Linked DNA regions of Homo sapiens. The main gene of each other region encodes a partner of the protein of the gene in region 2 in a complex. Each region holds a gene or a part of one and is shown on either strand. Other genes may lie near its edges. The genes, in order: MEP1A and FETUB. A codon is read from its position in the direction of its gene.

Region 1 (3,921 bases), on a different chromosome or scaffold from region 2:
AGAAACCTCACAGGTGATTTTGATTAGCCCTCTCTACCCTCATCTCATGTGAAAATCATTGACCATCTTACTCCAAAATGAACTACTACAGTCCTGGCAGAAAACTTTTGAGGATTCATATTTAATTATAAAGCTTGGTCAGTTCTTCCAAGCCCCCAAAAGTAAAATTATTATAGATGCACTGCAATATATGAATCCGCATATAAAATTGGGATCTAAATAAAACAGATACCTACACAAGGCTATTATTTGTTTTATAAAAGCCATGCCGGAAACAGTTAAGGCATTTTAAATATATTAAAGTTTCATTAATCTCTTACTGCCAAAAACAATGTTTTTGCATTCTCTTCACTAATTCCTTCTTAAAAACTAGGTATCTTCAGAAACACAGCATTGACTTTTTTTTTTTCTACCACATCAGGAAGCTGCTCAATAAATGTTTTAGTGTACTCAAAAGCACTCTACTTCATTGTCTCAAACAATTAAGGAAAGTAAGGGCCGGACACGGTGGTGGCTCATGCCTGTAATCCCAGCACTTTGGGAGGCCAAGGCAGGCCGATCACCTGAGGTCAGGAGTTCAAGACCAGCCTAACCAACATGATGAAATCCCATCTCTACTTAAAAAATACAGAATTAGCCAGGCATGGTGACACACACCTATAATCCCATCTGCCTCCCTGAGGCAGGAGAATCGCTTGAACTCAGGAGGCAGAGGTTGCAGTGAGCTGAGATCGCACCATTGCACTCCAGCCTGGGCCACAAGAGCAAAACTCTGTCTCAAAACAAAACAAAACAACCTAAAGAACAATGAAATAGTTAAAATAATACAACGGAATAATACGTAAGACAAAACTGTTGTATTTTGCATTGTATGAGGTGGAGGCAGAAGAAGCAAGGTGCTTAGAAACAAGGAAGAAAAAAACATTCACCTTTGATTAATCAGAACCCAGATAACTAGCTAGAATTAACATAATTGGGGTGTTATTTCAGATAAAAGCATTTATTTTTGTTTTTGTTTTTAAACATTTTTTATTGATTTGGTAAAGCAACTGGAAAAAATACTTCTTGAGTATGCCCTATAGTCATGGAATAATCAACTAAACCTCAAACAGCCTTCTAGAGGCACAGGAGATTTCACATCCAGAGAAATGACTTTAAAATCTGGATTCACTTTCCTCAGTAAGACAGGAAAGTAGAGTTTTAGATAGAGTTTTAATGAAAACACTGATATAAAGCAAAGCTTCTGGTTAACTTTCAGTTGACCCCCACAGTGAGTTAACACCATTCCTTGAGGCCCTTATCTGCGATGAATTCCGGTCAGACCAGCACAGCCCACATAAAGGGCCAACAAATCATAACCTCTTCAGAGTCTTTCTTCCCACTAGAGAGGCTGAAGCTCCTGTCCACACAGATTTGGCTTGGTCATCTCAGGATTGGTCTCAGCCAGTGATAAATGTGATAGCAATCTCCGCCCAATCACACCTGAAAGAATTTGGTCCCACCAGATGTTCACATAATCATCCCGGTCCGTCCTTGACTGCTCGTGGTAAAATCCCAAAGCATGCAGGATCTCGTGTTCTATGATGGCCTTATAGGCACATCCTTGGCCAATGGAAATGTTCTGTCCCACATGTTGGTCACCAACCTCAGACCAGCACCTTTAAAGAGGAGAAGAGGAAAAATTTCTTCTAGAGAATTTTTAAGTGGCTGTCATTCACAGTACTCCAAAACACAAATTAGGAGGAAATTAGGCTTGATTTTAGAAAGAAATTACCAACAGCATTCTCATATGCTAATGGTCCAAAGATGGGGACTGCTTAAAGAAGGAGCATTCCCTAGAGGGAATACTGTGCAGGCTTTAAAAGTGAAGATATAATACATTATAAAAGTGGCACATACTCAGAAGCAAATCAATCCTATTATAACAATTCGTCAAGGTAGAAAGCAATAAACATTGGCATTCCTTCTCACCTCCACAAACCCACAGGGCACTCCAAAGAATAACACTGTTGCCTTTATCTAAAAAATTGTTGTCTGAGGGAAAGCTGTGGTTGATTTAATTTTTTTGAGATTGGGGGTCTCACTTTATCACTCAGGTTGCTGTGCAGTGCCACAATCACAGCTCACAGCAGCCTCAGCCTCCTCTACTCAGGTGATCTTCCCACCTCAGCCTCCTGAGAGGCTGGGACTTGGAACCACAGGCAGATAATGTTTTTATTTTTTTGTAGAGACAGGGTTTTGCCATGTTGCCCAGCCTGGTCTCAAACTCCTGGGCTCAAACGATTTGCCCTCCTTGACCTCCCAAAATGCTAGGATTACAGGTGTGAGCCATCGCACCTAGCCCTTTTATACTTTAATAAATTTTCAAAGTTCCTATAATGAACAAGCATATATTTTATGATCATAAAAAGATCCTCATTAAAAAGCAAATTAATAAAATCCATGTCTTCGGAAATAGCAGATCTACAGTGTTATGACAGCACAGAGAAGGCTGCCTAACTTATTTCTGAAGGGTATCAGGCAAGGAGGACCTGTAGCGTCCCTCTGAAATCAGTGGGCTCGGGAACCTCTGTCAGATTCCCTGAATTCCTTACGGTAGAATGTCTTCCTCTTTCATTCTCCCCCCAATTATTTTTTCTCTTCTCATAAACCCAATTTTTCACCTCTATTAGCAAACCCAAAGCTTTCCACAAATTGTCTCCTATTGGCTTTAAATTGTCAAATGAAGATCTATATTTTACCCAATGCTGAGCAGAAAAGAAAGATTTCCTGATAGTCATAAATGCAACCAATGGATTGCAAGTTTCATGGTGACAGTCACAGTGTCTTACCTGCCAATGTTCTCCCCAAGACTACTGACACAGTATACCTTCAAAGGCTAACAGATTTGATTTTTACTCAAAGATGAATCTTAGTTATTTATTTTCTAATAACTTTATTAAGGTATAATTTATATACTATAAAATTCTTTAATTTTAAGTATACAATTCAATGACTTTTAGTAAATTTACAGTGTTATGCAAATGTAACCATGATCAACTTGCCTCTCTGATAGTGGCATTTTATTACCAAATCAGAGTTTACTCTGCAAAATATTCACAACTCAGAGAAAGCATTTATTATTCATCTTTCTTTTTAAATTCCTCCCCCAACAGAAAGACATAAGTTGCAAAAATACCATACATTCCACCTCACTGAGAACTTTTGACCTTGTCTTTCTGAAAGAGTCCCAGTTAGCCTCCAACTTCAGGAGACCAGTGCCCTGAAGGGCTTAGGGGCACTTTGGGCCAGTCCCTTCCCAAAATATCTTCCTCTCTTTTTCCCTCTCTTAAATTATCTGTAACAGAGACATCTCCTGGCCATAGGTGATTAGGTTTCCCAGATTCAGTGCTTTTACAAAGAATGTCTCTCAAAGCTGACCTACCCCTTAATCAAGTAGTTGGGACTCACTTGAAAACAAAAAAAGAAGTTGGGAGAACTTCACTGTGAAAGTGAGAATTTTGGAAAGTAATTATGTGGATTTTGTTTTATTTTTAAGGAGTTTCTTTGTGAAAAAAGAATGATGCAAAAGTGGTAGCTGAAGAATGGAAATAAATTTGTTAATAAAGTTAATTGTTTCTCTGACGTTTTCAATGAAAAATTAAGGGTTTTAGCACTTCCTTGAAGGTCAGAGATTGCCAAGGGACAAAATGCAGTAGTCAAAAGCAGAGAGGCCCTAAAATGTGTGGTCTTTGCAAGGCCTGAGATATACTTTAAATGTTTCCCCTTTACAGAAAAATAAACTATCTAACTACTATTGGTTATCTCCATTTATATGACCTGCAAAAACCTCAAGCAATAAAACACATGCAGTAAGATGAGTTTACTCTCCTACCTCATCCCCAAAGTTATTCTTTCAGCAATATTCCCAGCCTCAGCAAA
Region 2 (3,564 bases):
ATTACAAGCATGAGCCAGCACGCTGAGCCAACTGAAGTCTTTTTAGTTGAGCCACCTGAGTACAATTCTGCTTCTTTCAGACCCTGACCAACACGGTGTAAGACCCCACATGACACCCCCACATAATCACTTCCTTCTTATGAGAAGCAGATAAGAGGAACAGAGTGTGAACATTGTCTACGTCTCTTATGCAAATTATGCTGAGGCCTGTGTGCCTCTTCTAACAGCCACCAAGATAGAGGACAATAGCTGCATCTGCAAATTCTCTGTCAAAATGTCCAAAGTCTTATCTGCTGTGCATGTGTGCGTGTGCACATAGGTATCACTGAATGAGGGGAAATTGGCCCTGCAGTGTTTGAAAGAAGGAAAACGTAGACTGTAATTGAATGCTGTGATGAGCCCTCCTCTAACTGTCCTAGAGAAATTGTAACAGTGATGAGAACTGTCACGGTCTGCTGCTCCCACAGTGTCTAGCACAGGCCACATGTGCACTTCCCTTCTATGTGCCTCCAGCTCTAAGTGAATTACCCCACTGTTGAGACCTGGAGACTTCCAGACAGATGAAAAGAGGTAGAGGGTTGGAAATGGTATGGGCCCTACGCAGCTAATACCTGTCCTGGAATTAAAGGGAATTTAGGGACTGAAACTGTGCTGGGCATTAGTTGCTCACGCCTCCCGGTGTTAGGGAAAGTATCTTTACTCATGCAATGCTTTCATGCTGAGATTTCAGCACATATATACTGCTGAAAAGATAAGTATCTTTATAAGTGAGTGGCTGAAGACATAAGAGAGGCATCTCTCCATGGTATGAGACTGCTCAGTTTAGGAGGTGATGCAGCTCAGGGTACAAGGCAGTGTACAGGGTAGAGTGCAGCCCAAGCCGAGGGCTCAGTCTCATTATTTCCAATCCCAGTCAACATGCTGAGACCAAGAAGAGTCAAAAAGGCGTCCTTCACTAGCCACTCTACGTGTGCACGCTCTGTCTCTGTCCATCGTCCCCATCGCCTCCCATGTCATGCGGCGCACCATACCCCTACAGAAGACTCTGTGTGATTCTCATGGCGGAAGGACAAGAGGGCTGGCATTCTGGGCTGGCCCTGGGCACTCAGCAGTGCGTGCTTTTTCTTTGGGGAAAGGCAGGACCACCAGCTTCTCCTCCATAGGCTCCAGGAAGAGGAAGGAAATATCCAGGGTTTCTCCCTGGGGATTCGTGGTTAGGTCCAGATGCACAGGAAAGGCCTCCTGAGGGCCCTTTTCCTGGGAATTTTTATCATCCAAGTCAGGAAGATATTGGACAGATCCTCTTGGCCCAGCTTTGGAGGGGGAGTCTGTTGGGGGGGTGTTTTTCTGCTGGGATTCTTCCACCTTGGGAAGGTTTGTAGGTTTCTGGTTAACAGCAGAGTTTTCACTTCCAGTGGCTGGAGCCTGGAATGAGAACATTTTTGAATGTAGAGTTCCACAGGGAAAGTCCTCCCATGCCTAGTACCAGCCTAAGCTGATCTGTGCCTTTCTGTTGGAACATTTCAAAGGGAGACTAGGTAGAGGGATGGGCCTCCTGGTGAAAGGGTTAAAAAACAAAACAGATAAGGGCCAGGGGGAACCAGGACCTGTAGAAGCTTGACTGTGAGACTGTAAGTCTCACAATTTCAGAGCTGAATAATGGCCCAGAGAGGTTCAATGACTCACTCGAAGTCTCCAGCAAGCTCTCTTTCTGTTCCCAGTAGTGGAAGCAGCAGGTGCCTTTCCTTGCTTGTTTATTCTGCACCAGGCCTTGTACAGCACCCTTCATTCAGGTCCTTTCACTTGCTTCTCACAGGGATCTGAATGATGCAGTGTCGCAATCCCATTTTATAAATGAGGCAACCAAAACTCGAACAGGTAAGTGTGTGCCTGTTACACAGCTCACAGGTACCAGAGCAAAACTGGATCCCAAGTGTCCTGTTTCAACTGCTTCAAATATACCAGGCACAAATACACCTCAAATATAAACTGCCTCTCAAATATACCAGGCTACCTTATAATAAGTGCGCAATAAACACTTCTGGAAAGGGATTGAATATTTTCATGGAAATAACTTCTCCCTGTGGCTTGAGGTAAGGTTTCTTTGGGACGCTGAATTTAATGTCTCAGAGGCTTGAATCACATCCAAGCCAGCAGTTCCCTGTTTCTGAATTTGTCTTGCTTATTCTGCAGGACCATATTGCGACTGAAACAAGGCATAACAGGTCTTTGACTGGCTATCCTGTGGATGTGGACTCAGGCTAGCCTGCGCAAAGTGGTGAGCAAGGTGGTTGGGAAAATCAAAGGAGGGGGTAAGGTAGTGGCAGGTAACTATCGATAATCTGCTCTTCTTCACAGAAAGACAGGCAATTAGATTGAAAAATACCTGTGATTCAAAGAAGTCACAAGTCACAGAGACAAACTTTTCCCAGTGTGTTCGAGTCAGAGAACCTTTGCAAAGACCAACAGGCTAAAAGAGAAAATACAATGTCATGTGAGTATTACCAGTGATCACAGATGGAAATCAACTAGCTTTCTACTTGTGTAGATACACAGCCAATCAACATTTTTATGCTTCTACTATGTAACAGGTAGACTCTGAGTCAATTCTTTCTAGATCACCCCTACCAAGAAATCATCCAAATTAGGCTAAATTGCCTCCAATAATGAGAAACTCAGTATTTCTTGAGGAATGAAACTCTGTTTGTTAAAAAAATTCTTTGTGTTGAGTGGAAAGTTATGTCCATACAACTTCTACCTCTTGGCCTTAGTTCTACCCTTGGGTCAATTAGAAAACGTGTTTTCATCTTTTATATAGCAGCCCTTTAAGTGCGTTCCACCTGACATTTCTCTTCTCAGACAAAACCACTCTCAGCTCCTTAAATTTCTCTTTACTTAAAAGTAAAGTAGCTTTGTTTCCTTATTACAAATGTAATAGTTAGAATATAGATAAACAAAAGAAAATAAAGACCTGTAAATTGCATGAAATATATTTGTTACCTGCAGTGATTTGATTTCCTTCCTTCCAGTCTTTTTTTCTATGCATATACATTTTTCTTCTACAAAATAGAGTCATATTATATATATATTACTTTATAACTCTATTTTGTCACTTAACAATATATTGTAAAAACCCTCTTATGGCATTGAATGATCTTCTAGGGTTTTTAAAATAATGGCTACATAGTATTCCTCTGTGATGTTTAACAAGCTCTCTTTTGTTGGACAGCTAGATTGAATCTAATTTTTCTGTTGTTTAAACATTGAAGCTATATCTTTTCATGTATTCCTAGTTACTTCCTTAGAATAAATTCCTAGAAGAGGAATTTTAGAGTCATACTGTATGTACATTTTCAAGCATAAATAGAATGTTATAATAAAATGTTGCCTCAATTTCTAAAGAAGAGCTCTTAAGTATATCCACATAAAATTTACTAAATTTATCTAAAAATAAACTAAAAATAGAACTACCATTTGATCCAGCAATCCCACAGCTGGTGATTTACCCCCCCCCCCCACCCCCGCCAACAAAGAAACTACTATAAGAAAAAGACAACTGCACTT

What was found.
Region 1: the proteins of FETUB (region 2) and MEP1A are in contact, whole or in part, in a cryo-EM structure (PDB 7UAI), measured with the Homo sapiens proteins. Residues at the interface, in NP_001362516.1 of Homo sapiens: Phe109, Phe110, Lys144, Lys145, Tyr148, Met149, Thr150, Cys151, Pro152, Asp153, Cys154, Pro155, Ser156, Ser157, Ile158, Ser196, Ser197, Gln198, Trp199, Val200, Val201, Gly202, Tyr205, Phe206, Thr242, His245, Trp246, Phe249, Val250, Ser251; in NP_005579.2 of Homo sapiens: Asp126, Gly127, Cys128 (codon at 1,657), Trp129 (codon at 1,654), Ser130 (codon at 1,651), Glu131 (codon at 1,648), Val132 (codon at 1,645), Gln145 (codon at 1,606), Gly146 (codon at 1,603), Cys147 (codon at 1,600), Tyr149 (codon at 1,594), Ile152 (codon at 1,585), His155 (codon at 1,576), Glu156 (codon at 1,573), His159 (codon at 1,564), Tyr164 (codon at 1,549), His165 (codon at 1,546), Gln167 (codon at 1,540), Ser168 (codon at 1,537), Leu184 (codon at 1,489), Gly186, Tyr187, His189, Asn190, Asp192, Tyr194, Tyr214, Gln215, Phe217, Ser218.

What each region holds. Positions count from the first base shown.
Region 1 is NC_000006.12:46,817,266-46,821,186, reverse strand, and holds part of MEP1A (meprin A subunit alpha precursor), read right to left. Parts: intron 1,659-3,921; coding exon 1,483-1,658; intron 1-1,482.
Region 2 is NC_000003.12:186,650,124-186,653,687, reverse strand, and holds the end of FETUB (fetuin-B isoform 1 precursor), read right to left. Parts: intron 2,471-3,564; coding exon 2,387-2,470; intron 1,426-2,386; coding exon 1,057-1,425; 3' UTR 547-1,056; downstream 1-546. UniProt on the Homo sapiens protein: Protease inhibitor required for egg fertilization.